Linked DNA regions of Homo sapiens. The protein of the gene in region 5 interacts with the protein of the main gene of each other region in a pairwise test. Each region holds a gene or a part of one and is shown on either strand. Other genes may lie near its edges.

Region 1 (4,321 bases), on a different chromosome or scaffold from region 5:
GGGTGACAAAGTGAGACCTTGTCTGAAAAACAAAAACCCAAAAACCTACAAAATATTCAGTGTAAATAATTTCTTATTCACACAGTGCTTATTTTCTAGATTTAGGCAAGTGTGCCAAGAAGGTATTTCAAAAGGAAAATCTAAATAATTTAAATAATAGCTACATGTAACATATATACAGATACTTTATACCTTTGACTATTCATTTGTCTATCTGTTCTTTCATTCATTTATTTGTTTGCTTCTAAATTGGAGAATAAGAGTTGGAACAACACAGGACAAGGAAGAGTTGAAAAATTATCTCTATGAAACCTGCTTACATGCTTACGATTCACATGCTTGATTCTGTATCAGAGTTTTTTTTTTGACAGGATAATGGAAGTATGTAATCTTTGAACAGAAGATAATGTGAAAATATAATACATTAGGTTTCTTGCATTTTTTTTTCCCCAATCAGCCAACACAGAAGGATTACAAAGTTTTCAGACTTGCACTGGGCCAAAAAAAGGCTTTGCATCTAATTCAGAATCTTTTTATGCTTTGAGCAAACAGTGGCTAAAGCTTTTCCCTAAGAAAGCTGGTCTTCTAAGGACAATTGCCATTACCTGGCAGAAGTAAAGCTCACAAGGAAAGAGTGTAGCATTTGTTGGGTTTTGGACTCTAAATATGAAATTGTCACCTGATCAGGAGGAGGACAGTATACACATTTATCTAGTCGACCAGGCCTAAGCAGGGCAGGGTCAATCAAGTCAGGGCGACTAGTAGCAGCCAATACATAAACACCTAGAGGAAAAAAGAACATTTTTTTACCAAAATCTGATGACATGATGACATTTTGTTATAACATTCTATTTCTGTATTTATAATTATTACCCTGTAAGCCTTCTACTCCATCCAACTGAGTCAGCAACTGGTTAACTACTCGGTCTGTAACTCCTGTATTATCATGACCCCGCCGAGGAGCAATGGATTCAAATTCATCAAAGAAAAGAATGCAGGGCTTTGCAGCCTGTGCTCTGGGAAAAACAAACAACATTTCATATTTGAATCAGGCTTCATAGTTGGCAAAGTGATTTCATATACATATATGAATGTATTTATTTTATGTATTTATATATATTTATATACTTCTTTTAATTTTTACAACAAACCCTTAAAGAAGGCAAGTTGTATGTAATTACATATAAATACATATAAATGTATTTATATATATTTATGTATTTATTTTAATCTTTACAACAAACCCTTAAAGAAGGCAAGGCATATGAAATTACCCTTGTATTCAGTAAACTGTTGAGGTCAAGGTGTTTATTAAGACCCATGCCTTCTGGATAGACTAACAGGGATCAAAACAAAAACTGACTCTTAGTCAATAAGTCAAACACTTTTGATTCCTATTACAAGTAACCATTTTTATATTAATATATACTTATTGGCCACCCTTCCTTCTTTTGTGAAATGCCTATTCATTTATTTTGCCCATTCAAAATTTGGAAAGCTCATTATGTTGGTACTGTTTTGTAAGGGCTCTCTATAAAATATATTTTATTTCTTTTACTTTTTTAATAATTTGAACTTTGACTTTGTTTTATTAATTTATTAACAAATTTTAATTCAAAATAAGTGAATATTAATTCCATATCTGGCAACAGGTGGACTAGATGTCTGGCGAATAACACCTAATATAAAACACCTGTCACGGTGATTGAAAAAAATCAACAGCTATCTCATTAAATGCATGGCAAGTAAAATATATCTTCTGGGGCCAAAAATAGACCAGAATTATCTGCTACTTGAATGTTTGGCAAAACTCTCCTAGAAAACTGAGTCTGATGTTTGATTTGTGTAAAGACTTCTTTAACTTTTCTAACTCAATTTTTACTAAGTTACAGGACTACTCAGATTTTGTTTCTTTTTTGCTCAATTTTGGTCAATTTTGTTTTTGTCTATGTCACCTAAGTTTTCAAATGTATTGGCATGAATATTTTCATAATATTCCCTTATTATCTTTTACATTTCTGGGATATCTTTAGCGATGTTTCCCTTTTTATCCCTAAAATTGTTTATTCATGCTTTCTTTTTTCTTAATCAAACTTGTTAGAGATTTGTCAATTGTACTCGGTGTTCAAAAAATAAATCTTGGCTTTGTGAGCTTCTCTGTTTTGTGTTTCATTAAACTTCATTCTTATCTTTATTATTTCCCTTTTAACATATTTTTTAGTTTATATCTATAATTTTCCTAATTTCATGAGATAGATACATAAGTGGTTAACTTCTAACCTTTTTTCTTTTCTAAACATTTAACACTATAAATTTTCCTTGAAATCAGTTTTGCAACATCTAACAATTTTAATGGATAGTATTTTCATTATCGTTTGCTCCCAAATATTTTCCACTATAACTTCTCTTTAACCCAGGAATTACGTGGAAGAGGTTTATTTTGTTTATGCTTTTTCCTGGTAAACTCGGTGGTGAATACATGAAGTATTCATTTTATTATTCTTCCTTAAGCTGCATATGTATTTTATGTATATTCTCTTAACTGTATACTTTATAATAAAATTTTTGGAAGAATAAAACAGTAACTTTTATTTTAAAACTCCCCATAATGCTATCACATTTGAATAATTATTTTCATCCTTAAATACCATCTTCTGTATTCATATACAGTTTTTTAATATATGCAAAATAGTTACACTCACTGAAATTAAATTGGCCAGATGGACTCTTGACTTATAAGAGATAAATTAGAAACTGGGGGAAAAAAGAATTTAGAACTTACAAAATTTAGAGATAAATTAGGGGCAATTATTTGCTTCATATAAGAATCTACTCTGAGATTTCTTTGAATAACCACTTCGATTCCACTTTGAGGAGTATTTCTATTGTAAAACAAAACCAAATAATTTCCAAAATTTAATATCTAAAATGTTTTGTATTATTTGATGAAATAGAGAATCCACGTCCTCTAGCTTATTAATAATTCACATAAACCACAGGTTTCAAATATCAGTTCTTCAAAAAACAAGACCAAAAAAAGCACTGATTGATAAATAATAACAGAGTCAGTTACTTTAAAAACATTCATAGGCTACCAACCTAATAAAAATATCCCGAACAGCTTGTTCACTTGCTCCAATGTATTTGCTGAGTAACTCTGGCCCCTATTGGGTAAAATAAGAGTTGAGATAAAATTATTTAAAAAGAAAATATAAATTTGGTTTCTGACTAAGTCTAAATGAATCATGGAAATCTTTAATATGATTAAATGGATGTCTTTTATACATTTTTAAAATTAATGTGTGCTAGAATAAATATCATACCACAAGTTCTATGCTTGATGCTTCTGCCCAGAACATTTTCCCCCGGATATTCTCATGGCTTGTTGCTTCATTTTATTTAGATCTCTGCCCAAATACCACCTCTTCAGAAACCCTTTCCTGACAAGTCCATCTATGACTCACTCCAGTTACTCCAAGCCTCCTTACCCTGCTTTTCTTCCTACATAGGACTTACCACCACCATCTGACAGTGAATTATATACTGAATGTGTCTATCTGCTTGTTGTCGCTTTCCACTAGTAGAATGTAAACTCCAAAAAGGCAGTTTTGTTCACTGCTGAATCCCTTGTGCCAGAAACAGTGTCTGCCACATAAGTATTGGATAATAGTTTTTCCAAGTGAATAAGTGAATGGTGTAAGAAGGGACAAAGTCCCATCTATCTCAAATTTTAAAAAATGTGTAGAGATATGACTTTAATCAGCATCTTCAATTACTGAAACAATGTATTTTCATAGGAGTTAAAGAATATATCATTTTTAGAACATGTGGGAAAAGGCCAAAAAAAAAAAAAGAGAATATATAATCTTCCCTAAAAGCCAACTGAAAAACCTTTCGAAATAAATTTCCCTGCATATAGCAAAATCAATAATGAGAATAGTCTTTCCTTAAATTGGGATCTTAAAAAAAACCTGAATAGGTCCTAAAGTCATCTCTAGTGAAAAATCACTATCTCCAGAAGACCAACTACTGATCAGGATATGTGACCAAAATAAGGAATTTCTAATATTCAACCACATAAATATCTATTAACATAATAATATTTAATTACATTTCCTCAATACAGTCAGAGAACTATAGGACTAGAGGAGGGAACAAGAAATAACTAAGGCAAGACCGGGCACGGTGGTTCTCGCCTGTAATCCCAGCACTTTGGGAGGCCGAAGCTGGTGGATCATGAGGTCAGGAGGTCGAGGCCAGCCTGGCCAACATGGTAAAATCCCGTCTCTACTAAAAATACAAAAATTCACCGGGTGCGGTG
Region 2 (3,246 bases), on a different chromosome or scaffold from region 5:
GGGGCCTTCTGACCTGGTTGCCAAGGCAACCTCATCCATCCTTGGCAAACAAAAGTGAGGTCTAAGTGGTTTCAATGACTGTGGCCAGCCTCTGACCTGCTGGCCTTGAACTGAGGCCAGAGAATAGCCTCCTCCCCAGTAGGACCTGACTGAGAGAAGAGCTGTCTCTTAGGAAAGGGGACTATCCTGAGACCTCCCCAGAGGATTATACCTAAAGTCCTCCCATCCTGGAAGTTGGTTCCTAAGGAAGACTCCTCCTTAGTAACCAAGGACCACGGGGCTCAGAAAGATGCTCTCTACTCCACTATTTAATTAAAGCCCAGTTCCTGCTTGTGAGGGTAAATCCAGTCCCTAGCAACAGGGCCCTCTAGAAGGAGAAACCACTGGTGTAGATCTGACTTCCAGGCCAGTCCTAGGTGCTTCAAGTAGCTATGTGTTACGCAAGGGTATGGCAAAGTCTTGTTTGTTTTTGAGATGGAGTCTCGCTCTGTCGTTCAGGCTGGAATGCAGTGGCATGATCTCGGCTCATTGCAACCTCCACCTCCCAGGTTCAAGCGATTCTCCTGCCTCAGCCTCCCAAGTAGCTGGGATTATAGGTGCCCGCTACCATGTCCGGCTAATTTTTGTTCTTTTTTTTTTTTTTTGAGATGGAGTTCTCACTCTGTCGCCCAGGCTGGAGTGCAGTGGCGCGATCTCGGCTCACTGCAACCTCCGTCTCCTGGGTTCAAGCGATTTTCCTACATTAGCCTCCCAAGTAGCTGGGACTACAGATGAGTGCCACCATGCCCAGCTAATTTTTGTATTTTTTTGTAGAGACGGGGTTTCACCATGTTGGCCAGGATGGTCTCCTGATCTCGTGATCTGTCCGCCTCGGCCTCCCAAAGTGCTGTGATTACAGGTGTGAGACACCACACCCGGAACATTTTTGTACTTTTAGTAGAGGCGAGGTTTCACCATGTTGGCCAGGCTGGTCTCAAACTCCTGACCTCAAGTGATCCGCCCACCTCAGCCTCCTAAAGTGCTAGGATTACAGGCGTGAGCCAACGCGCCTGGCCCGGAATGACAAAGTCTTGTAACAGAAGCCCAAGCAACTCTTGCTAGGGAAGACTCCAGTAATGGCAAAAAACAAAATCATGCAAAGATGCAATGACTGCTCAAATCACCCCAAATCAGAAAGTGGCACTGGCTGCTAACAGAAGCCTGAAGTCTCCCACCAGTGAGAAGTCCAGGCCCAGGAAACAAGGCCTAAAGGGGCTGGCACAGTCTTCATCCTAGCCAAATGCAATCACTCCAAAGGAAGTCCCACATCAGAGATCAAAGGCCTGCTGAGTAAGGAGAGACAGGCCACAGGCTGATATCCCATTGCCAAAGGAAGACTGTCCTTTGCAAGTGTGCCTGGTGGAGCTCTGGACCCAAGTAATAGGAGAAGCTCCAAGTCTCTACAAGTAGACCTAGCAGAGCTGGCTGAGTCAGCACCCCACAGTGACACTGTCTTTTGTTTTAAGACAAGGTCTCCCTCTGTTGCCCAGGCTGGAGTGCAGTGGTGTAATCTTGGCTCACTGCAGCCTCAATCTCCCAGGCACAAGCAGTCCTCCCACCTCAGCCTCCCAAGTGGCTTGTAGAAATGGGGTTTTGCCATGTTGCCCAGGCTGGTCTTGAACTCCCGAGCTCAAGAGATCCTCCTGCCTCAGCCCCCTAAAATGCTGGGATTACACGAGTGAGGCCCCTCGCCCAGTTGACACTGTCTTTATAAACCTCAGGCCCCTGCCCCCTTGTGCCCCGTGGCCAAGGAGGACTAATCTGTGGCTGCAGGCCAGGAGAGGCTGAGCACTAATCCCAAGGAGAAGCCCAGGCTTGACTGTGAGAAAAGGCCCCTCCCTGGCTGTGGGGCATGTCTCCAGCCAAGTCTATCTCCCACATCCAGCTCTGCTCACCTTCTGCTCCTCCGGCACCTGGATTTTTCTTGCCTTCTTCATGATTGGCTGGGGCTTAAGTTCCTCTTCTGAGAAGCGATGTCTTCGAGGGTCAAAGGTCTCGTGGCCAGGAATGCTTGATAGGGCAAGATCAGCTGGGTCGGGTTCAAAGGTCATCAACACCTCCACGGTGTCTGGGTCCACAGGGCTGGGTGTGTCCCGAGAGGTCAGGCCTTGGGGAAACAGCACGTGTCAGCTGAGTGTGTATTTTAAGGAGGGGGTTTCCTGAAGCTACTTTTTGCTGTGGTATCATAGCCACATGGAAAGTCCTTCTGGGATCTAGCATAAATTCGGCCAGGGATTAATCTCCCTAATATAAAATATGAAGGTTCCCTTGGCCAGGCGCAGTGGCTCACGCCTGTAACCCCAGCAGTTTGGGAAGCCGAGGCGGCGAATCACCTTTAGTCAGGAGTTCAAGACCAGCATGGCCAACATGGAGAAACCTCATCTTTACTAAAAGTACGAAAATTGCCCAGGTGTAGTGGCGGGTGCCGGTAAGCCCAGCTACTAGGGAGGCTGAGGCTGGAGAATTGCTTGAACCCGGACCCTGGAGGTGGAGGTTGCAGTGAGCTGAGATCATACCACTGCACTCCAGCCCGGACAACAGAGCGAGACTCCGTCTCCAAAATAACGAGAAAAATGAAGGTTCCCCTAAGCCATAAAGATGCTTAGAGATCATGGAGCCATATCCACCTTTACAAACAAGGAAACTGAGTCCCAGTCATAACTGACTTGCCCTAGGTAACACACGAATCAGGGCTATTGCTTCTACACTTGATCTTAGCCAAAAGGCCGAGAAGCGATGGGGCTATTGCTTCTAAAACCTCAGGACTTCAGATGCACAGTCTAGCCTGAATCCTACTTACCGAATCCACGACCTAAGCTTAGACCCCAGACTGTCCAGAGAAAAAGAATCTACTGCACTGAAAAGCTCTCAAGTTAGAGTCTAAGAGCTACTCGCTGGAAAGAGGAGGAGAAGCTGCTCTAAGGTTCCAGAAGATTGGTTCGAAAGGAGGCGCCTGTACCTTTAAGCACCAGCCAGCCGGGGCCAGCTAAGGACACAGGTTCAGGGCCGAGTCACGTGCTGACGCCTGCTTCCCTCCTCCTCCCTTCCTCCCAGGCCCCCGCCATCGGCGCCCTCACGTTCCCCCGGCCCCGCCCCCCTCGCGCTTGAAGGCGCCTGCGCGAAGCGCGGAGGAGGGATGGGAGGACTCACGTGGCGCAGGAATGTGCCGCTGGGAAGGGTAGGGCCCTGGTTCGGCCCGGAGGTCGG
Region 3 (4,321 bases), on a different chromosome or scaffold from region 5:
CTCTCTTCCATGGGGGGCAGATCCAATACCCAGTGGCCCCCAGATCCACCATTACATTTTGGGCCCACAAAGTGGGCCGTCGGGGATCAGCGCACAGAGTTCTTGGGAGCAGCGCCGTTGGGGCCCCCTGTCTCTCCACCCCATGTCTCCACCTTCAAGACAAGGTAAGTGGCAGATACTCAGCTGTACCAGCAGGGCCGAACCGAGAGGCACCCACTAGTAAGATAGCTGGACCCCCAGGGAGGCCCCTGCCCCTCTCCCCAGCCATCTGATACCCCATTTAGCCCTTCTCTGAGCTCAGACTTTGGGGAATCACCTCAAGCCATGTGAGGCCTAGTGTAGGATGGGTTTTTATCTGGGCTGCCACTGAGGGCAGGCAAAGAAGTGGCTTGTTGAGAGCCCTGTACCTCAGTGTCTCCCTTCGGACCACCACCAGAGTGCCTTTCGTATCTCGGTTCATCATCTGAGCCACACAGAAAATTGAGTGATGATTTTCCCTGGTTGAAAACAGCAAAAAGATACCCCTGCCTCCCCTTGCCTTTTGGCTGCCCCCGGGTCCTCGCCACTGCAGCCTCTCCCAGCTGTGCCTAGGCTCCAGAAATGCCTTCCCATCTCCCCAGCATGCTCATTTCACCAGCTGCGAGCTCACTGGGCTAAGGCACAGGGGTTGGTACATGACCTGCCACTCCCAGGGGCCGCTGGTACTTGCCCTTTATAGAGCAGCCAAACTAGTTTTCAGTGGGAGCAAAAGGCAGAGGAGAGACATGGGCAGAAGAAACCCTCCTAAGGACTAACATTGCCCAGCCAGGCAGCCATCCCCCAGACCAGGAGGCTTGAGCCCTTCAGCATCTTATAGCTGAGGAAGGAGACAGAGCTCGAGCTCGGCCTGCAGGTGCACAGCCTGCCTCTGAGACTCTGCCTTTTGGGTCTTTGAGTCATCACAGGCATCAGCATTGGGACTGGAAGGGCCCCTAAGATGAGAAGGCACTGAGTGGCATGTGGCTCCAGACTCCCTCATAGCCTGCTCTCTCGGGCTTGGCAGGTCTGCAAAGGGTTTTGGGGCTCGAGGCCCAGACGTGCTGAGTCCGGCCATGGTAGCCCTCTCCAACAAGCTGAAGCTGAAGCGACAGCTGGAGTATGAAGAGCAAGCCTTCCAGGACCTGAGCGGGGTGAGTCATCCCCACTGGCCACAGGGGCCTCTCCATAGCCCTTAGGGAACCCAGGGCTGCTGAGAGGGGTGGGGATGTGGCCCTTCCAAGCCAGCATAGCCCTTAGGGAACCCAGGGCTGCTGAGAGGGGTGGGGATGTGGCCCTTCCAAGCCAGCAAGTGCCAGCCCTGTTCCAGGCCCACCCAACCCACCCAGTCTGGGGACCTGGTTCTCTGGCCATTTCCCCTTTCCATCTGCCCTTCTTACTCCCAGGGGGACCCACCTGGTGGCAGCACCTCACATTTGATGTGGAAACGGATGAAGAACCTCAGGGGTGGGAGCTGCCCTTTGATGCCGGACAAGCCACTGAGCGCAAATGTACCCAATGGTGAGCAGCGGCCACAGGCCTGGGCCTCCTGGGGGTTCTGGTGGAAGGACTGGGGCTCGGGAGCCCATCCTGGTTCTTCCATTCACCACAGGCCGTACCTGCCTCTCTGAGCCTTGTTAGAATGGGGCGATGTCCTCTGTCTCTCCCGCAGTCCCACACACCCAACTTTTCCATCTCCACTCTGACTTAGATGATGCCATCAGAGGGTCCTGAAGGTTGGCTGTAGTTCTGGTGACTCTGAGCACCTTTTATAAAGGAAAGGGATGCTAGGGCTTCCTGGCCTCTCCCCTCCCTCAGGCCAATGCTACCGTCACTCTCTGACTTTGGTCTTTCAGATAAGTTCACCCAAAACCCCATGAGGGGCCTGGGCCATCCCCTGAGACATCTGCCGCTGCCACAGCCTCCATCTGCCATCAGTCCCGGGGAGAACAGCAAGAGCAGGTTCCCCCCACAGTGCTACGCCACCCAGTACCAGGACTACAGCCTGTCGTCAGCCCACAAGGTGTCAGGTGGGTGTGCCCAGGATCTGTCACCCCCATCCCAGGATTCGATGCCAGGGGAAGCCCACGTCTACTTTTTTTCCAGCGTCTGCACAGTGCCAGGCACAGGGAGGTGCTTGACTTGAAGTCACCTATACAGGGCTCAGGTCTCCTTGGATTTAGGGAACCTCCTCACAAGTTCCTTGTGACATCAGTGATCAGGCCCCCCAGTGGGTGGGTCTGAGACACAGCTAAAAAACTCAAACTCAGGCTAGAATACTGAAGGAAAGAATGCAGACCACTACCGACTGCCCAAAGAGGACTGAACACTGAACACTGGGTTGGCGACCCCCAGAACACTGTACCACTGTTGACAGGAGCACTTTCAGAAGAAAGAGCAGGCGGCCACAGTGGTGAGGGCCTGTTGAAGAAGAGAAGAGAAAGTTCAGAGAGAGAGAGTTGGGAAGCGGTCTGGGCAGAGGCAGGGGATCTCCCGTCTATGCAAGGATGAGCTTGCTGCGTGGAGAAGGGAGTGCTCCTTCCCTGGGGCTTTAGGGAGAACCCTCCCATGATCAGGTGCCATCCAGGGCTCTTTCCACCCTGAGAATCCCGGAGCCTTGCCCCTTCCTCAGTTCTTCATGTGGATGTGTTTTGGGGTGTCACTCTGAGTTCAGGCAGGTGCTGAGAACATGCCAAAACTTCCTTCAGGTAGAACAGCCTGGAAAGCTCTGGTAGGCCCACCCCACTGGACTTGGTTCAACTGCAGGCACCAATGCCTGCCTTCAACCCTGGGCCACCTTCATCTTGACAGTATCTTGTGAAACATATATGTCTTCATGAGGTTTGTTTGGCCTGAAAATAATTCGTGGTTTATGGAAAAACATACCAGGCCCCTGTTCTAAAAGGCAATTTCCTCAGCAATAGAGTTTGGGGAAGGTTATAGTTCTGTGCTTCAGAGTCCAGGCTGTAGAAACACCAGACAGCCCTGGCTTAAATTCTGGCTCTGCTGTTGAGTTCAGGGGCTGGTATATATTTATGTGCAGTAAGAGGTAGCCAGCACTATTCTTCCTGTTATGTGAAGCCCACGAATTACCTTGAATATTGAAATCAAGGGAAAATCATATTCTTTTCAAAAGAGTTGAATCATATCAAACTCTTTTCTGACCATGAATAAGAGAAGTTAGCAAGGGATGGTGAGCAGGTATCCATTGATACTGTCCACAGGAGCAGTCAAGCTGGGGAGGCAGGCATGGACCCCAGCAAGGATCTGAGCTAGGAGGTGCAGGAGGCAATGGCCACTGGAACGAGGCTCTGCAGATAAGGGAAGGTGGGTGGGCATCTCCCATCGGAGGGGCAGAATGCAGGGCTTCCAGGCTCTCTGCTGCCACCTAAGCCTTTCCTCCTTGGGATGGGGGCCTGTGTGTGTGCTGCGAGTGTCCCCCCTGCCACTCCCTGGTCTGCCTCCTCGGCAAGAGAATAGCACAGAGGCAAGAAGAAAGGACTGCTGAGGGTGGTGACCAGAAACTGGATTTTCAGACTGTTGAATCTTGAGGCAGTCTGTGTTTGCATCTGTATGTATGTGTGTGTTCTGCATGTTCTGTGTATGTGAGCATAGGTGCCAGGTGGTTCAGCCTTTCCTCCCTGCTGCCAGGAGGCATGGGGGTCAGCAACCCCAGGCTCTTCCTGAAGCTTCCACATACCTGTGCTGCAGCCCGCACCTCACGCTTTCCTCTTTCTTGGGTCTCAGCACCCCACCTGAGGCAGTGGTTCTGGAGGCAGACACGTTCCCCGGGCATGCAGCAGGCCGTGGGACAGACACCACTGAAGGAGCAGAGTGAAATTAGGGCTGCTCTATTGGTATCCCCCAGTCACAAAGAAGTAGACACTTTTCCAAATGTTCGATTTAGGCCTTTAAGTTATGGTACCAACCCTTCTTTCAGGCATGGCAAGCCGGCTGCTCGGGCCCTCATTTGAGTCCTACCTGCTGCCCGAACTGACCAGATATGACTGTGAGGTGAACGTGCCCGTGCTGGGAAGCTCCACGCTCCTGCAAGGAGGGGACCTCCTCAGAGCCCTGGACCAGGCCACCTGAGCCAGGCCTTCTACCTGGGCAGCACCTCTGCCGACGCCGTCCCACCAGCTTCACTCTCTCCGTCTGTTTTTGCAACTAGGTATTTCTAACGCCAGCACACTATTTACAAGATGGACTTACCTGGCAGACTTGCCCAGGTCACCAAGCAGTGGCCTTTTTCTGAGATGCTCACTTTATTATCCCTATTTTTAAAGTACACAATTGTTTTACCTGT
Region 4 (4,321 bases), on a different chromosome or scaffold from region 5:
TTGACTCTCTGCTGTGGGATAGCTGCTCTGTCAGAGTGACGGAGATGGTGCTTAGTGGTCATTCCCTAGGTAAATCATACCTCATACAAGTCAATAAATTTCCTGCAATTGGAATTGTTGCACCAATGGAGTATCCACATTCAACGAATTGATACTTCTTTCCCTGTTCTCTTAAAGGTATTAATAATTCCAACTTACTGTCACATCCATAGTTTCTAAGTATAAATTGGTCTGTATTCTCAGCAACAAGGGCCAGCGTAATTTTTTAAAAAGTTTGTGACAATATGTTAGACAAAAATAATACTGTTTTATTATAATAATAATTATTTTTTGAGACAGAATCTCCATTGCCCAGGTTGGAGTGCAGTGGCAAGATCTCGGTCATTGCAACCTTTGCCTCCCAGGTTCAAGTGCTGCTCGTGCCTCAGCTTCCCAAGTAGCTGGGATTACAGGTGTGCGTCACCACACCCAGCTAATTTTTGTATTTTTAGTAGAGACTGGGTTTCACCATGTTGGCTGAAACCTACTGGTCTCGAACTCCTAGCCTCAAGTAATCCGAGAATCGCTTGAACCTGGAAGCCGGAGGTTGAAGTGAGCCATGATCACACCACTGCACTCCAGCCGGGGCAAGAGTGTGAGACCCTGTCTCAAAAAAAAAAAAAAAAAAAAAAAAAAAAAGCAAAGCAAAGAAACAGGGCAGGTACAATGGCTCGTGCCTGTAACCCCAATACTTCGGGAGGCTAAGGTGGGAGGATCACTTCAGCCCAGGAGTTCAAGACCAGCCTGGGAAACATAGTGAGATCTCTATTGCTAATTTAAAAACAAAACGAAACAAAAAAAGTTTGGCACCGTGGCTCACACCTGTAATCTCAGCAGTTTGGGAGGCCGAAGTAGGGGGATCACTTCAGCCCAGGAGTTAGAGACCAGCCTGAGCAACATGGCAAAACCCTGTCTCTACAAAAAAATACAAAAATTAGCAGGGCATGGTGGTATGCGCCTGTAGTCCCAGCTACTCAGGAGACTGAGGTGGGAGGATCACTTGAGCCCGGGAGGCAGAGGTTGCATGAGCTGAGACTGTGTTACTGCACTCCAGCCTGGGTGACAAAGGGGAACCCCATCACAAAAAAAAAAAAAAAAAAAAAAAAAGACTCCAGAATAAGCAGGTATAAAAATAAAGAAATAAATAAAAGAAACAAAATAAAATGTTAACAGTGGTTACTTCTAGGTAAAGAGATATGGAGATAACAAGTAATGTTTGGTATTTCCCCCAATAAGCAGATAGCAGGTATTACTTTTTAAGTCAGAAAACAGTTTTGCTTTTAAAGGCTTCCATTTCAAAGACAGCAAAGAGTCACTCTGAAGCCCCCCTCACCTCTGAAGAGGCCCGGATGATCCCTGAGATGAGGCTGCACAGCTGGTTGCCTCGGGTCTGGAAGGCAGCCAGGTCGACCTTAAGCAGGGCTTTGTGCTGCTCAGAGGCATCCAGCTGCTGGCTGAGCTGCAGCATCTCCTCCTGCAGAGCATAGAGGGCCCGCAGGCGGATCTGGCCTTCTTCCTTCCGAAGCCGCTCCTGTTCTGCTTGCTTCACGCGCTGCTGCTCTGCTTCCCGCAGCTTCAGGTTGAGAATCTGTAGAAAAGGGCTGAGTGACTTCTCTCTGAGGGGTTCCTGGGCTTCTTCTTTCTACAGTCCTCAAATTCTACGTGGGCTACATATTTTCACAGATGGGCTCAGAGCAGGAAGAGGACATCCCAAGGTTAGTCATACACAGGCATAATACGGCCCAGATCCTCCATGGTGGCCATCTGCCAAAACCTGGCTCTCCAGGCAGGTTACAGACAGACACCAAAACACCCACACCAATTCTGCCAGGCTCTGACCTTTGCTCTGTGACGGTGCTCAGCTTTTAGCTTCTCTTGGTGTCCCAAGGCTTCTCTGGAGCTGCATGAAAAATGGCAGGGAGGAATAGTCAGGGATACTTCCTGAAATTGTTTTTCTTTCTTTCTTTTCTCTCCCTCTCCCTGCCCTCCCTTCCCTTCCTTCCCTTTTTCTTAGAGATGGGGTCTCGTTATGTTGCCCAGGCTGCAGAGCATAGCTCACCACAGCCTCAAACTCCTGGACTCAAGCAATCCTCCTGCCTCAGCCTCTCTAGTAATTGAGACTACAGCTGTGTTCCACCACGCCCGTAAAATTGTTTTACCTCTCCTAAAAGCCTCCCTCTTTGTGTTCCTTTGGTTGTCTCTCCAAGTTTGGTCTTTTTTCCAGGTTATAAAATTCTCTGCCTATTTTACCTTGATATTTAAGGACTCAGAAGTTGTTCAACTCTTTCCCTTTGGAATTCCTCTTGGGAAAGAGTTCCAGTTGAACACATCAACATTCCCAGTCATAATTCAGGGAGACTCACCTCTTCTCCATTACTTCCCGCAAGTCCTGGAATTCTTTATGCTGCTTCAGTTCCTTCCATTCATCAAACCGCTTCAGTTGTTCAGATGCCATCTCCGAGAGGGCTTGCACCTTCCTCTCCTGCTCCTCCTGCCATAGCCTCAGGCCCTCCTGAAAAGGTTTTTTTTTTTTTTTTTTTTTTTAAGATGGAATCTCTCTCTGTCGCCAGGCTGGAGTGCAGCTCACTGCAACCTCCAACTCCCGGGTTCAAGCGATTCTTGTCTCAGCTCCCCAAGTAGCTGGGACTACAGGTGCCTGCCACCATGCCCAGCTAATTTTTGTATTTTTAGTAGAGACGGTTTCACCATGTTGGCCAGGATGGTCTTGATCTCTTGACCTTGTGATCCGCCTGCCTTGGCCTCCCTAAGTGCTCGGATTACAGGCGTGAGCCACCTCGCCCGGCCGAAAATGTTTAACACCTGCTCTCTGGAGCGCCTTCAACACCTTGATCATTTACCCCTGCGGGCTACCTGCCCATCGGCCCCTAACACCATCAGAGATACTTAAGGGCATGGAATCAGAACCTTTGCAGGAATATCCTTTCTCCTTTTGCTTGATCTTTAAGCTCAGCTGTTTTGGAAAGCTCTTCCAATTGCCCCATATGGTTTATGTCACTCCAGTACAAGTTGGGAACGGACAGGAATTTAGCAACATGACATCAAACAGCCATGCACTATTAAGCTTCCATCCTGTGTAGTCTTATGGGGTTCATTGGTAATTTACGGAAATCCTCATTCTAATTCCATAAACAAGCTATACACATTCCTATCTCACTGATTTTGTTAATCTCTGCCTCGAAGATTTTCTCCTGGACCTCCACTAAGGAAAGTCCTTTTCCTTAGTACCTAAGGGTATCAGATATTGAATTTATCATTTCATGAGAGTACTCACATATGGTTAAAGGCAATTTGACATTTTAACTATCAAAATTTGAAGTGTCTATATCCTTTGACACTTGTTCCATTTCAGGAATTTATCCTGAGGAAATGCTTGTATGTGTGTGCAAAGATATATGTACAAGAATGCTCACTGGAGCCCTGTTGATAACAGCAATACATTTAAAACCACTTAACTGGGGAATGACGACACGTATTATAGTACAGTCATACTGCAGAATACTATGCAGCCCTTAAAGATGACGAGATGCCAGCTAGCATGGAGATATGTCAAAATCTACTGTTAAGACATTATGTTATTTTATTTTAAAACATAATTATATTTTATTTTGTTTATTTGTTTATTTTTGAGACAGGGTCTCACCCTGTCATGTAGGCTAGAGTGCAGTGGCACACTTATAGCTCACGGCAGCCTTGAACTCCTGAGCTCAAGGGATCATCCCAACTCAGCCACCTGAGTAGCTGGGACTAAAGGTGTCCACTATCACACGGGGCTAATTTTTAAATTTTTTATAGAGTCAGGGTCTCACTATATTGCCCAGGATGGTCTAGAGCTCCCGATCTCAAGCTATCCTCCCACTTTGGCCTCCCAAACTGCTGGGATTATAGGCATAAGCCAACTGTACCCAGTCTTAAAACTTATTTTAAAGCTTCCAGCGAAAGAAGGCAAACTAAACAAGCATATATGTCCTCTCCTCTGGGACTCTGTTAAAGTGAGAATTGGAAAGAAAAAAAAGACATAACACCACATAGAGCATGAGAGATGTCACCAGCAGGGAAAAATCTTCTACATACTTCTGGAAAACAGTCAGTGGAGAAATAGCCAGGTGCACTGGCTGAGATCTGTAATCCCAGCACTTGAGGAGGCCAAAGTGGGAGGATCACTTGAGCCCAGGAGTTCGAGACCAGCCTGGGCAACAGAGAGACCCCCGTCTCTACCAAAAATTTAAAAATTATCTGGCTGTGGTGGTGCACACCTGCAGTC
Region 5 (4,321 bases):
GAGGAGTTATCAAGAGCCACGATGATGGAGTCACAGCCCTGCCTTCTGCAAGGTGTGGCCGGCTCATTCATTTTACCATTTGGGTATTTCCTGGCACATCCCAGAAGGAGGGCATCCCCTCTTTACCGAAAGGTAAGATCAAGCAACACGATGAGACTAGGGGGTGTTGGTAAGACGGGAACTGGGGGCCGGGAGTCCTGGCTCCTTCCTCTAGCCCTTTTCTTCGCCCCCTCTGAGAGTTTCCACTGGTGACAACATTTACTGTAAATTCTGTGCTCTGAAGAGCCTGGGCAAACCCCGAGGCAGAAGGGAGGGCCACTCTGACCTTCTCCCCGCCTAGAGGCTGGCCCAGCTTTCGGGAAGTGACAGCGGGTCCTTCCTCCCTAAGCAAGCTCTGCTGAGCTCACTCTAGCTCTGTCGTCTGCCTCCCCCTCCCTGGCTTGCAGATCCCAGAGCTCTAGGCAAAGTTTGTAACCGCTGCCTGCTGCCTCTAACCAGAAAACCACCGCCAGTGATAAGAAACTTGTCTTTACCTTGGGAAGCAAGAGTGCTTCCTGCTAGGGCCCCCAAGAAACCTGCCCTGCCAGCCCAGGGACCGTGCAGCCAGCCTGACACTTATGAGAGAAAGGGTTTGACTTCCCTTGCAGGAGGAAGTGGCTGATCTGGGGCCTCGTCCCTCCATGTCCCTGCTATTGCCCAGTCCCCTCTGGCCCTCCTTGGGGCAGTCATGCCCTGGAAAGGGCTCGCCCAGCTGAAGGGACAACTGGCAAAGGTGGCATGAGAGCAGCTGTTTATCCAGAGGTACAACAGTGACATCCCCTAACAATGAGGGCTGGACACCTAGAGCACAGTGAGGCTGGGAGGAAATGCAGCTTCTCCCATATGCATGTCTTCTGCTACTGAGAGGGGTGGGGGTGAGCCTGCATTTGGGCATCCATGTACCCATCTTTCTCCTATTCAGAATTCATCCAGGTCCATCAGACTCCTCACAATAACGCTCTGTGTGGGATAGGGAAGGTCAGCTGTTATTATCCCCACTCTACAGATGAGGACAACTGAGACCCTGGGACAAACCTATGCCACATACCCTCCAAAATGACCACAGGCTGGTGACAGCTGTGCTATAGGATTCACCTCAAGGCACTTGTTTTCTCAGAAGTTCAGAAACTTTGAGTGTTTGATGCAAAGACTCATTGCCCGCGAGGGAGGCGCAGAGCAGGGCTTGGCTCGGGGCCCTGTGTTCCTTCTCTCACACTGACTGCTTCCCCCGAGAGACTGGAGACTTGAGTGGGCAAAGGTCTCCCGAGAACACTAGAAAGTTGGCCAGGTGCTGTGGCTCACGCCTGTAATCCCAGCACTTTGGGAGGCTGAGGTGGGCAGATCACTTGAGGTCAGGAATTCAAGACCAGCCTGGCCAGCATGGTGAAGCCCTGTCTCTACAAAAAATACAAAAATTAGCCGGGCGTGGTGGCGCATGCCTGTAGTCCCAGCAACTCCGGAGGCTGAGGCAGGAGAATCACTTGAACCTGGGAGGCAGAAGTTGCAGTGAGCCAAGATTTTACCATTGTAGTTCAGCCTGGGCAACCCAGCAAGACTCTGTCTCAAAAAACAAAACAAAACAAAACAAAAAAATAAGTCCTTGGCTACCCTGTTGTCTCCCAGGAGAAAGCTGGGTCTCGGTTTTGGTGACCCACACACAACACAACACAACACAAGATCCCTGAGTCACTCACATTCTTCCAATCATAGAGCTGACCATCTGCCTCCTGGGCTGCATGGAGAGGGGGTCACCTGGCCAGATATTCTGGACAAGGGCTGACTCGAGGCCAGACCTTCCTCCAGACACAGAGCCAGGTCCTGAACTCATGACCACGGTGAGCTCCATCAGCGGTAAATGGGAATAGGAACTTGGGCCCTGGTCCTGGCTGGGTGATCCTCAGTGACTCGATTTCCCTATTCAGCTCCAGTTGCCTCACTTTAAAATGGAAAGACTGGACCAAAACAATGATTCTCAACCTCATCCACACACTGGGGTCCCCTGGGGAGCTTTAGCAATCCTGATGCCTGATTCTGATCTAATAGGTCTAAGGTGTAACCTGGCTCAATTTATACGAAAAAGGTGGATAGAAACCAAAATTTTTTTAAAAAAATAGCCTAGGTTAACTTAACTATCATTTATTTGTTTATTTAATTTTTGAGACAGAGTCTCTCTCTGTTGCCCAGACTGGGAGTGCAGTGGTGCAATCTCAGCTCACCGCAACCTCTGCCTCCCTGGTTCAAGCAATTCTCCCCACCTCAGCCTTCTGGGTAGCTGGGGTTACAGGTGCCCGCCAATACACTTGGCTAACTTTTTGTATTTCTAGTAGAGACGGGGTTTCACCATGTTGGCCAGGCTGGTTTTGAACTTCTGACCGCAAGTGATCCGCCTGCCTCAGCCTCCCAAAGTTCTGGGATTTCAGGCGTGAATCATCCATGCCTGGCCAATAACTAACATTTATTGAATACTTCCGTGTGCCAATCACTCTTTTAAGTATTTTATGGTTATCATTACATTTGATATTTTCAACAAACTTGTGTGGTAGAAAATATTATCTCCGTTTTACAGAAGAGGAAAAACAGAGGAACAGAGAAGTTAAGTCACTGGCTCAAGATCACGCAGCTTGGAAGTTGCAGCACCGGTACTTGAATTGAGGCACTCTGGCTTCAGAGTCTGTGCCCTCCATCCTTTCTTGCCTTTAAAGTCTGTTTAAACGTTATACTGTTTGACAGTTCTCTCCTATGAGATAATTCCTCAGCCCCGGTGGCTTTCCAATTTTATCTTCCCTCTTTTCCCACCTCAGGCAAATCCCTCACCTGTGGGGTCATTTGATGCCACCTACCTCTACCATGAACCGCAAGCAGCTTGGGGGTGGCTAAGGAAGAGGCTTCCTGGGGGCGTGGGAACATTCTGGGAAATCCCCTACTGGAGGGGCTTAGGAGGGGGTCACTCACAGAGCGCTTCAACGATGGGGAATCCCCAGGCAGTTCCCTCACCCGCCGGGAGCCATTAGGGACGAAGACCAAGGACAAGGCTGGCATTTCCTAGCTGGGCCCTGGTGGGGACTGTCCAGGCACCCTGAGCAGGGCTGAGGCTTCCTCCCTACCAGCTCCAGTTTAGTGTCTTGGCCTTCTCCTTGCATTTTCTAATCACAATTTCCAGAAGGGTGAAAATAGTCCCTGTGTATTTTCTCCTCAACAGGACATGTAATCATGTATTGGCAGGGTGACCTTTTGGCTCCCACCTACACTTAAGTGGCGTTCGAAGCTTATCCCTCACACCCAGATATATGTTCAGGCTCCATCAGTTACCAGCCCCTGTACGTCACATGCAGAGGGTGGAGCCCGCCATTCCTGGAGCAGGCTTCCAACTGAAAAGTACGACTCTTCCCAAGCAGCGGGAGGATCTAGGCCCACATCTCCCACCATTCCTGGGGAAATTCACCCCAACTGCTGCCTCTCACCTTATGAAAGGAGAAGAAGAATCACCAAACCACAGATCTTTGCGCTGAATAATGCACGTGTGTGATTCTGGAGGAACCTTCACTTTCATGTCTTAGAGCTGAAGCTCTAGGGCCATAAGCACCTTTGCATTTACAGAAGATTGGCCACATCAGCCGTGCCCTCAGGGACCTGTCTAGTCACAGGGTGAAAAGGCTATCGCCTGGTCCTTGGTTTTCAAGACTATGATTTCATTGCCCTCAAATGTGAAAAAAACTATAGTTTGGTTCATTCAGCGTCCATCCCAAACCCCTTCTGCCTTGCCTTCCTCTAGAAAGACTGGGAAAAGAATTGCTAAAAAAAAAAAAAAAAAAAAAAAAAAATTCCAGCTTACCTTACCTTGTAGCTAGGGGTAGCCATGTGACAGAATTCTGACCAAAGATACGTAAGCAGAAGTACCTGATGGGCGGGAGGGAGGTGAAGGCAGAGCTTCCCTTCCTACCAAAAAGGCACAGCCTGCTCATAAGGACAAAGGCTTCCTTCCTTCAACATAGACTGATGCCGAGAGGCTCGGCACCCATCTCACAGCCTAGAGAATGAAAGCCTCATACTGAGGATGGCTGCTTAGAGAGAAGGAGCTTGGTTCTTCCTTGCTGTAGCCTGGTCTCTCCACTTTTGAACTTCTTGTTACATGAGAAAAGTAGGCCATGATTTGTTGATTCCTCATTTGATGGCTGGTCTCTCACTTGTCTCTGAATGCATGCAATCTTGGCTGATACTGATGCTTCGAGTTACAAAGGTTACCACTAGCAAGATTATCAATGTTCAAAACCAAACAACAAAA
Region 6 (4,321 bases), on a different chromosome or scaffold from region 5:
CCCAGAACTCCTTAAATAGTCAGTGTAAAAATTGGGTCTATGGTGTTTTATGAATTGGCCTGTATGCTGCCACTTATCATCAAAATCTTATTAAGCTACATAGGAAGAAGGATAAAGTAGTAGTATTGTAACTTCATTTATTCAGTAAGTTGAGAACTTATGCTCCCAAGGACTAGCTCTCAAGGAAGAGACAATAAACAAGTAAAACAAGTAAGAAAATTTCAGATTGTAGTAAATGTTAAGTGTTACAGAATAATACGTGCAATGTAACAAAGGATGAAAGATTAGCTGAAGGTAAGGAAGAGTCAGTTAATTTAGACAGCATAGTAAGAATAGGTGAGCTTCTTTGCAAAAACAGCATTCGAACTGATGATAAAAGGATGAGGAGGAGAGCATTTCATTGTAGGGAGAAGGAAGCAATACCATATATGTCATGTCCTGAGGTAGGAAAAAGCTTTGAATATTTGATGAACACAATAGAGAGGCATGAGGTAAGGATAGATGCGTAGACAGGCCCAGATCAAAGAGGGCTTATGCCAAGGAGTGTGAATTATTTTAAATACAATGGTAGACCATTGAAAGATTTTAAGCAGGTGACATATTTAATGTATTAAAAGTCATCTTACAGAAAATGGATTGGAGGTAGAAGCAGGAAGACAAGTTAGAAGGTAACTGTTAATAATCCAAACAAAAGATGATGATGGTTTGGGCTTACGTGGTGTCACTGAACACAGACATAGAGGATGAGATTCAGGTCTGATAAAATATGCTGTTAGTTTCAGTGTAAAAGAAAGAAGAAATTAAGGATGACCCCTAAATTCTCAGCTAGAACAACTAAATGGATGGAGAAAATTTACTGAGATGGGGAAAACTGGGGGAAGAATCAAGGACTCTGATTTTGACCTATTAAGTTTAAGATGTCTATTAGACATAGAAAAGGTAATGTCAAGATGGAGTTGGATATAAATCTGGCAATCTGGTGAGATACCTATGCCCATAGAAATTTGGGAGTCATCAGTATGTAGATGTTTATTAAAGTTATGGGCCTGGATGAGATCACCTAGGAAGAAAATCAAGAAAGAAGAAGAGGTCCAGATTTTTTTTTTTTTAAATCAATTTCATATGGTATACCTTGCTCAAGGAGGGCCTAATGATTGGGGAATGCAGAAAGAAGGAATACTCCTAAAAGATGCTGAAGCAGCCACGAACAATGAAAAACTGTTAAGTGTGAAAAGAATGAAATGCTCTCTAGGAAAAAAGATTTGTATCAGAGATTTAAAAAGCATTTCCAATAACTGTAATAATGTGGAAACAACCTTTATGTCCAAAAAGAACAGGATAACATAATACATATACATATCATATAATAAAATAAAGTACAATCATTAAAAAGTATGATTTGGGGAACTCTCTAATGACATGGGAAAATATTCATCAATACTGAGGGTCTAAAGCACAATATAAAATAAAGCTAGGATCTTTATATCCATCTATCCTTCTATTTAACTATTCACTTATGTATTTGTACCTATAAATGTATATATCTAGAAAAAAATGTTTCAAGATAGTAATTCTTATTCAATTATGTGCTAATAGGTGATTTTGGTTTTCTTTTCATGTTTCTGTATTCTTAGAGAAGAAGAATGAGAATGTACTTTTAAAATGAGAAAAAGAAAATGAAGAAAAAAAAACAGAAAACAAAGCATTTATTCTTAGCCAAAAAGTTATTTTTTCTGTATTTCCTTATTTCTAGCTCCTCTGCCATGACAGAAGTCCATTAATAAGTATGGTTTTAGAATAACAATCTAAAAAAGAATATTGCCACTGCCTCTTTATGTGTCCCATTGCCCTTCGCTGTGTCCTGCATGGTACTCCCAAATAAATATGTGCTTATTCTATGTGCTTGTGAACAAAAGAGTGATCAAGAAGTTCCCATAATAATGTTACTCAACACACAACTGTAGCCCAGGTGGTCCCAGATTATCTGGGTATTCAAGCTAGTATCATCATCGTCCTAATTGCCGCTAACAAAGATCCACTGCTGAGAATGAGTAACTAGTCCCTTAATCCTGTAAAAGTCTAAAAAACCACTGTTCAAATAATTTTTTGAATAGATTCTTAATTAAGCTGTTACTGTATAAAAGTAGCTAAATATAAAATAGCAAAACACAGAAAAATTAAGTTAAATTTATAAATTTATATATCTTTTAAAAATAAGTTTTATGTAACATGACTGTTCTCCCCTATAATTTTTCTATGTACAATAAAAGCTGCAGTCTTCTTACCCTGAAATATCTGAGTATTGACAGGCTTTCACATATAAAACTATTGCAAGCTGACACTGAATTTAATACATTAACATTTTATGGAGATTAAATAGTAAACTTTATTTGGGTACTGTTCCTCCCCCTTACTTTGTATTTCTAAAAATTTCTAACCTTCTCATCACTGGTAGTAGACTCTGGGTGAGGTAAAGGACTATCCTGGTGAGTTGTTTCTACAACAGAAGGCTCCTCAATTTTGCTTCTTATGATAGGTGTTGCAAGAGGGGATAAATCTAGAGGCATCTATAATTCAAATAATAAGGAAAAGGTTATAAGTTCAAAAACAGTGTGTCTAAATTTAAAAAGCAGGAAGTATAAACTATGATTACTTTTCTGTCAGAAGTACTCTTTTTAAATTTCATGGTTACAACATACTTTTTTAATGTCATCTTCTGAAGCTTTCTTGAATTCATTCTCAAATGGACTCGCCAACTCATTAAACAAACCCACTTCTTCACAGTTTTTCAAGAATCTTGTTGGTGTTGGGGTCTGATCTGAAATAAATGTCAAGAAGTAATCATGCATATTTAAATATGTTAAGACTCTAAAATATAGCTACTAAGTTAACAAATTAGCAGGACTGGTTCAGTCAGTTGTTAATTCTCTCTTTGGAAAGACCTCTTCCTTTAAAACAAACAAAATTTGGTTAAATTTTTGTTGTACTTCGTATTTCCTCCAACTTTAAGAACTATGAAATATGAAAGTAGGAAAGAAGTCCTTTTTGCTCCTTAGTCCACTGCTTCTTTCTGAGTAGAATGGCATAAACATCCTCTACTCAAGAGATAAACTATTATTATCTAACACAGTATAAAGAATTTTTTAAATTTACATTATTAAAAACTACAATTATTTAAATAAATGAAATTTGGGGAAAACTAGGATAAGAGCATGTATATCTGCTTTAACTTGGTTCTTCCACTAGCTGTTCATACTCTATTATGAAAGCAAACTAAGATAAAACAATCTTTAATAGGTAGATAAAAATATTGTAAGAAAGAAAAAAAAAGTTAAAACAGCCCTAAAACAACAAACCCTCTTTTTACCACTATCTACTGAAACTAATTTTCTAATTTAATGCATTTTACAAGCTAGGTACAAGGAATATGTGTGAGTCACATGCCTCCAGAATGTTCTAGCTTAATTCCTAAGGAGTAAAGAAAGAGTCTACTCTATTTTCTTACAACATGAAACATTTCAACTTTACTCGAATATGTACTCCTACTATGTACATTAACATAGGTACTCAGTGTCCATGTATAGGCTACAAAAAATGCCAGGTAAGATTTACACTGAATGAAAAGCAAGAAACTTATAAATTCTGCCTATTTAGTGTTACTATTTTCAAGGGTGTCTATTCATATTGATTAGAGTTGGTAGCACATTCAAATTCTATTCACATTTAATATATTTTAGAGCACCAATTTTACAGGCTATAGCAGGGATCTAGCCTAAGTGAAGTAAAAGTACTCTACTAAGGAAGACTCTTGGTTTAAGAGAAAATACTCCTAATTCCTTTTGTAAGATTAAAATTTACATATTTGTTAACCATTATGTCCCCACAGAGGGCATTACTTCCTATTTTACCTTTGCCCCCCACATGTATACCTAGAGGACTAGTATTTTTACTATGTACAAATATATTTCACACTAAAATGACCCACTTGTAATACAAAACTAGACATAATGCAGGCCTGTTTCAGGCACTGTTAGTAATATCAGAATTACTAAAAGGACTCTATTATATCATAATTTTACTAGTTTCTAGCCTATCCCTTAATTCCCACCTCCCAAAAGATCTCAAAAATCACATTACAGTAAGTAAAGTACATGTATTAGCTTAAGTCCATCATGACTAAATTAGTAGGTCAAATCTAAATGTGACTCTTCTGTTCACACCCAAAGGGTTTGTCTATCTAAGTTCATCAGAAGGCTCTTAACTTACATTAAAGGGAGGGGAAAATCTTAAAAAAATAAAATACATAAGCATAAGTCACTTT
Region 7 (4,321 bases), on a different chromosome or scaffold from region 5:
TAAATAGAAGCATTTGGAAAAAGCCAAGTAATTTTAAGGCCCTGTCAAACTATAATTGGCACGAGGAAGCATAGAACAGATGAAATAAGCAGAAACAGCCCACTGAGTGTGCAGTTCCGTAGTCAGCTCCATCCTGCTTCCAGTGGTGGGTCCTGGCAGTGCTCTCCAGCCTGGGAGTCCCCGGCTCCTCCTCCTTTAGTGTCGCCATGGCTGATCGCTGGACAGCCAAACAAACAGAGGAGCGTGGCACAGAGGAAGGGAACAGATAGTTAAGTACTTGGACAGAAGGGCAACAGTTCAAGTATTAAGATTTATGTTCCTTAATTTCTTCTTCTTTATGCGAAGAATTTTAGCATCTCTAAAGAATGAGGGTCAAAAAGATGCAGAAACAAGAAAACTTAACCATTACTTAGACATTACTAGATTGTAGGACAGACAAAAATGTCCCATCCAAGAGTAGCGCTCATGTTTTTTGACTCAAGAAAATAGGAAGTTTACTAACTGGCTTCCAGGAAAGGCCAAGGAGAGAAAGCCAATGGGAAGGAGGGCGGGGCAGAGGGACCCACACCAGGAAACCGCTGGCAGGTGGGGGATGGGCCTCCCCAAGGCTACAGGCACGGCTTCAGTCAAAGATTCATTTCCTTCACTCAGCAAGTGTCTTCCACAAGAACTGCAGCTCCTACATACATTAATACATTTCTTTTACGTGTGAGGCTTCTTCAATTTACATCTTACTTCCCTGAGAAATGGCACAGACATACCTACAAGCAGTCATCACTCTAGTCAGTGTCAATACTGAAAGGCAAGTTTTCTCTGTCTTCCAGCAAGACCTAATCTACAACAAATTAAAGAGCGCATTTCAGTAAATGTAAACACATCACTTGGTCAATTTTCACAGTGATCATCAATGATGGCAGTCTACAGAACACAAGAAATGCAAAGCCACCCTTCCTTTTGAAATAAGCTCATCTGCCAATCAGATGTCACTGATTTTCCATGCTTGTCTCGCCGCAATTCTCCTCAACCGCTGAACTGAAATCTCCACTTCTGAATTCCTCAAAACAGTAAGAGGGCAGTCAATTGGACGCTTTCACTAAAGTCAAATATTTACAATGAAAATCACTTGTCTTGGGTGGGTGCAGTGGCTCACACCTGTAATCCCAGCTACCAGGGAGGCTGAGGCAGGAGAGTCTCTTGAACCCAGGAGGCGGAGGTCACAGTGAGCTGAGATTGTGTCACTGCACTCCAGCCTGGGAGACAGAGCAAGACCCCGTATCCCCGTATCAAAAAAAAAAAAAAAAAAAGGAAAAAGAAAACCACTCATCTTGACATTTTTCATTCTTGAATAGAGGAATGGCGGATAGATCTGTGGTAATCTTCTGGATTGCTGATGTGTTCTGGTAAATCGTAGCCCCTCAGGAAATGTCCACTGTTTTGTTGAGCAAAATAATATAGTTGTCTGGCTAGCAGAGGTTCTACCTTTAATAAGAGATTTTAAAAAGACATTACTGAGATATCCTGCAACTGGCTCACTATTAAACAGCACTCAGATTCTAAGGAGACAGTAACGTAAAGCCCAAAGTTACATCCTAGAACACATCAAAACATTTCATATTTGGAGCCATCTAAAGAAGCAATTTTTTGGTTAGTCCTTCCATAGATCAACATGTAAAAAAACAGCCAAAGTGACTTAATTCTGGGTTAAAGATGTTACTTTCAAATCGACTGCCACTTAAAATGTACATTTAACTAAAACTGCATCAAATCAAGTAAAGTGATCAAATTAAAAGGAAGTCTGAGGGAATCTGCAGGGTAATTTAGGCCAATGATTTTGTTTTTCCACAACTGCAGTTTGAAAGAAACAAGGAGCTCATCCTGAATGATTTGATTTCTAGGTAATCTGTATAGTTCTCAACCAGAGGTAAAAGAAATAAAAAGTAAAGTTAAACAACAACAAAACTACTATTGTGGAAAAAGAGAAGCTAACTGGCCTCAAATTTATACTGTCTGGTTATTAGCGTGGATCACACTCACCAAAAAACAAAAACGCCTTAATGTTCAGCTTTTCCTGAATTTACAGCATCTAAGGCAAGCTGAATGCTCTCCATCAATCATGATATTAGAGACTGTATTTTATATATGACGACTTAAGCTAAACTCCTAAGTACCTGAAATGAATTAAATTAATAATTTTTAAAAGTGGAACTCATAGGTGTACACGTGTGTTTATTCATTTTATGGACCACGCAGCCTCGTCTTCAGCATGAGGGGGTCATCTGGGGATCCATCTTTCCCTGACTTAGAGGACAGTGACTTGCATCCATGTCAACTTTAAAACTGGATTGATGTGATAGCTGAGCTGATCATCAACTTCTTTTTTTGTTTTTTTTTTGAGACAGAGTCTCACTCTGTCACCCAGGCTGGAGTGCAGTGGTGCAATCTCGGCTCACTGCAAGCTCTGACTCCTGGGTTCAAGTGACTCCCTTGCTTCAGCCTCCCGAGTAGCTGGGATTACAGGTGCGCACCACCACGCCCGGCTAATTTTTGTATTTTTAGTAGAGAGGGGGTTTCACCATGTTGGTCAGGCTGGTCTCGAACTCCTGACCACATGATCTGCCCGCCTCAGCCTCCCAAAGTGCCGGGATTACAGGCGTGAGCCACTGTGCCCGGCCGATCATCAACTTCTTAAATGCTGCTTATCAATGCCAAGTTTATTTAGTCATTTAGCAATTCCTGTTGTTAACAATGTATCAGTTATTATTTCAACAATCATATCAATTATTAAGTCAATCACTGGAGAGAACTCATGAGAAAACTCCTGAGTCTATGGGATTATATACTGGTTGGTTGGCTGGTCTTTGTTTTTAAAATCAAGAAGGGGGGTTGTATGTTCAAGATTAAACCATGTTTCATTTCAGTTCTCAATGAGAAATAGCATCAGAGCTAGAACATGATGAGAACTTTGATGTTAGGGGGTGTAACTTTTACCTGGTATTGCTCAGCATGCAAGCCCGTTAATAATGCTTGCAAGTATGTAGCAATGTGAAGTTTTCAAATTCAAAAGTCTTAAGGGTTCAAGATTCTGTTTCCCATGGCAAATTAATGCTTCATGTTATCTATGGAAACCTTTTCTCATAAAAAAGAAAACTCTAACCCTAATCCTAACCCTACCCTTTTAGTGTTACTTGCCACAGTTGAACCCATCTTGAGCTATGCTAGAGAACATTACGAGAGGGTCTGATTTGCTTGAATTCCTTGAAAGATTCAGCCTCTTTCAAATATCATATGCCCAATAATTAAATAATTTCTAAAATTCCAGAAATAAAAGAGGTGCTAGGACACAGCTGCAGAGACCTACAAAATGCCTCCAGGGAATGGATAGTTTCTCATTTGGGAAAAGCTTTTCCATTGAATGAAGATCCACTAGCTAGATAGCATTCTTACAGCAATCTTAACCTGGAGAATTTTAAAGGGCAACTTTAACCATCAATCTTTTTCAATCCCTATAAAATGGAAATACGACAACTTTCCTGAAAAATAAAAAAGATGGGGAAAGAGGCACCCTCCTTTGAGGCTGTCCTCCCTGGTTCTTTGATGAGCAGATCTCAAGTCTGGGAGGAGCACGTGAGTCCTCAGACTGTGCTGCTCGTTGGACCATGCTTCCTCCCTCACTAGTTTAAGGGTTACGCTTATTTTTCCAGGTCATTTGACATTTACTTTTCATTTGGGACTTTTCTAAATGAAACTCTGGCCTTTACAAAGAACAGGAAGCCACTATGGTAGGAGTGTAACTGAGGACTCACGTGAGCTGTGATGAGCTTTCTTTGCCTCTGAGGGTCTGGAAACTCCTCTCCAAAGCATAGAGTCACCTGGAATCTTGGCAGGGAGCGGCCGTGGTGAGCAAACGCTTGCAGCTCTGTAGAAGCCCACAAGAAAGAGACCATGTTCAGAAACCCTCATCACCGAACACACCAGGTTAAACAGGAAGCAAGAGCTTACTGTGATTCTGAACACTGCAAGAGGAATGAGCACTCTTACTCCGCTGAGTGGGGCTCTTGATGTGAACATCTCAGATACAAAATAGCATGTATGCATTCCTTTGGGTGCTTTCCCCCCAGGGCCCTCGGTCTCCCTCGATTCTTCAAGAGGAACTAGTCGACAGCTAAAGAACACTGCTTTGCAGCATTGGACCCACGAAGATTCAAAAGGTAGTAGACCACAGTGAAGTCGGGAGATAAAGAACAAGAAACGTAGTCACGCAATGGCAAAAGACCAATTTATGCCATGGACAAGTTTTCATTTAAAAAATCAGAATGTTTCG

Evidence for each region.
Region 1: the proteins of BATF (region 5) and PEX1 interact in binary tests that used the Homo sapiens proteins (3 or more experiments, as listed by UniProt).
Region 2: the proteins of BATF (region 5) and DBP come close enough for resonance energy transfer, tested with the Homo sapiens proteins (one large-scale study listed by BioGRID and IntAct).
Region 3: the proteins of BATF (region 5) and EPAS1 come close enough for resonance energy transfer, tested with the Homo sapiens proteins (one large-scale study listed by BioGRID).
Region 4: the proteins of BATF (region 5) and GLE1 interact in binary tests that used the Homo sapiens proteins (3 or more experiments, as listed by UniProt).
Region 6: the proteins of BATF (region 5) and ATF2 come close enough for resonance energy transfer, tested with the Homo sapiens proteins (one large-scale study listed by BioGRID and IntAct).
Region 7: the proteins of BATF (region 5) and IRF4 interact in a two-hybrid assay, tested with the Homo sapiens proteins (one large-scale study listed by BioGRID and IntAct).

What each region holds. Positions count from the first base shown.
Region 1 is NC_000007.14:92,493,614-92,497,934, forward strand, and holds part of PEX1 (peroxisomal ATPase PEX1), read right to left. Parts: intron 3,165-4,321; coding exon 3,100-3,164; intron 2,157-3,099; exon of another isoform or gene 1,017-2,156; coding exon 874-1,016; exon of another isoform or gene 784-873; coding exon 680-783; exon of another isoform or gene 1-679. UniProt on the Homo sapiens protein: Component of the PEX1-PEX6 AAA ATPase complex, a protein dislocase complex that mediates the ATP-dependent extraction of the PEX5 receptor from peroxisomal membranes, an essential step for PEX5 recycling.
Region 2 is NC_000019.10:48,631,510-48,634,755, forward strand, and holds part of DBP (D site-binding protein), read right to left. Parts: intron 2,147-3,246; coding exon 1,935-2,146; intron 1-1,934. UniProt on the Homo sapiens protein: This transcriptional activator recognizes and binds to the sequence 5'-RTTAYGTAAY-3' found in the promoter of genes such as albumin, CYP2A4 and CYP2A5. It is not essential for circadian rhythm generation, but modulates important clock output genes.
Region 3 is NC_000002.12:46,380,554-46,384,874, forward strand, and holds part of EPAS1 (endothelial PAS domain-containing protein 1), read left to right. Parts: coding exon 1-164; intron 165-1,042; coding exon 1,043-1,169; intron 1,170-1,421; coding exon 1,422-1,536; intron 1,537-1,871; coding exon 1,872-2,045; intron 2,046-3,955; coding exon 3,956-4,107; 3' UTR 4,108-4,321.
Region 4 is NC_000009.12:128,520,898-128,525,218, reverse strand, and holds part of GLE1 (mRNA export factor GLE1), read right to left. Parts: intron 2,552-4,321; coding exon 2,403-2,551; intron 1,940-2,402; coding exon 1,879-1,939; intron 1,630-1,878; exon of another isoform or gene 1,628-1,629; coding exon 1,373-1,627; intron 28-1,372; coding exon 1-27. UniProt on the Homo sapiens protein: Required for the export of mRNAs containing poly(A) tails from the nucleus into the cytoplasm. May be involved in the terminal step of the mRNA transport through the nuclear pore complex (NPC).
Region 5 is NC_000014.9:75,538,964-75,543,284, reverse strand, and holds part of BATF (basic leucine zipper transcriptional factor ATF-like), read right to left. Parts: intron 1-4,321. UniProt on the Homo sapiens protein: AP-1 family transcription factor that controls the differentiation of lineage-specific cells in the immune system: specifically mediates the differentiation of T-helper 17 cells (Th17), follicular T-helper cells (TfH), CD8(+) dendritic cells and class-switch recombination (CSR) in B-cells.
Region 6 is NC_000002.12:175,115,552-175,119,872, forward strand, and holds part of ATF2 (cyclic AMP-dependent transcription factor ATF-2), read right to left. Parts: intron 2,819-4,321; coding exon 2,700-2,818; intron 2,568-2,699; coding exon 2,439-2,567; intron 1-2,438. UniProt on the Homo sapiens protein: Transcriptional activator which regulates the transcription of various genes, including those involved in anti-apoptosis, cell growth, and DNA damage response.
Region 7 is NC_000006.12:404,613-408,933, reverse strand, and holds part of IRF4 (interferon regulatory factor 4), read right to left. Parts: intron 3,917-4,321; coding exon 3,804-3,916; intron 2,169-3,803; exon of another isoform or gene 2,035-2,168; intron 1,480-2,034; coding exon 1,336-1,479; 3' UTR 1-1,335. UniProt on the Homo sapiens protein: Transcriptional activator. Binds to the interferon-stimulated response element (ISRE) of the MHC class I promoter. Binds the immunoglobulin lambda light chain enhancer, together with PU.1.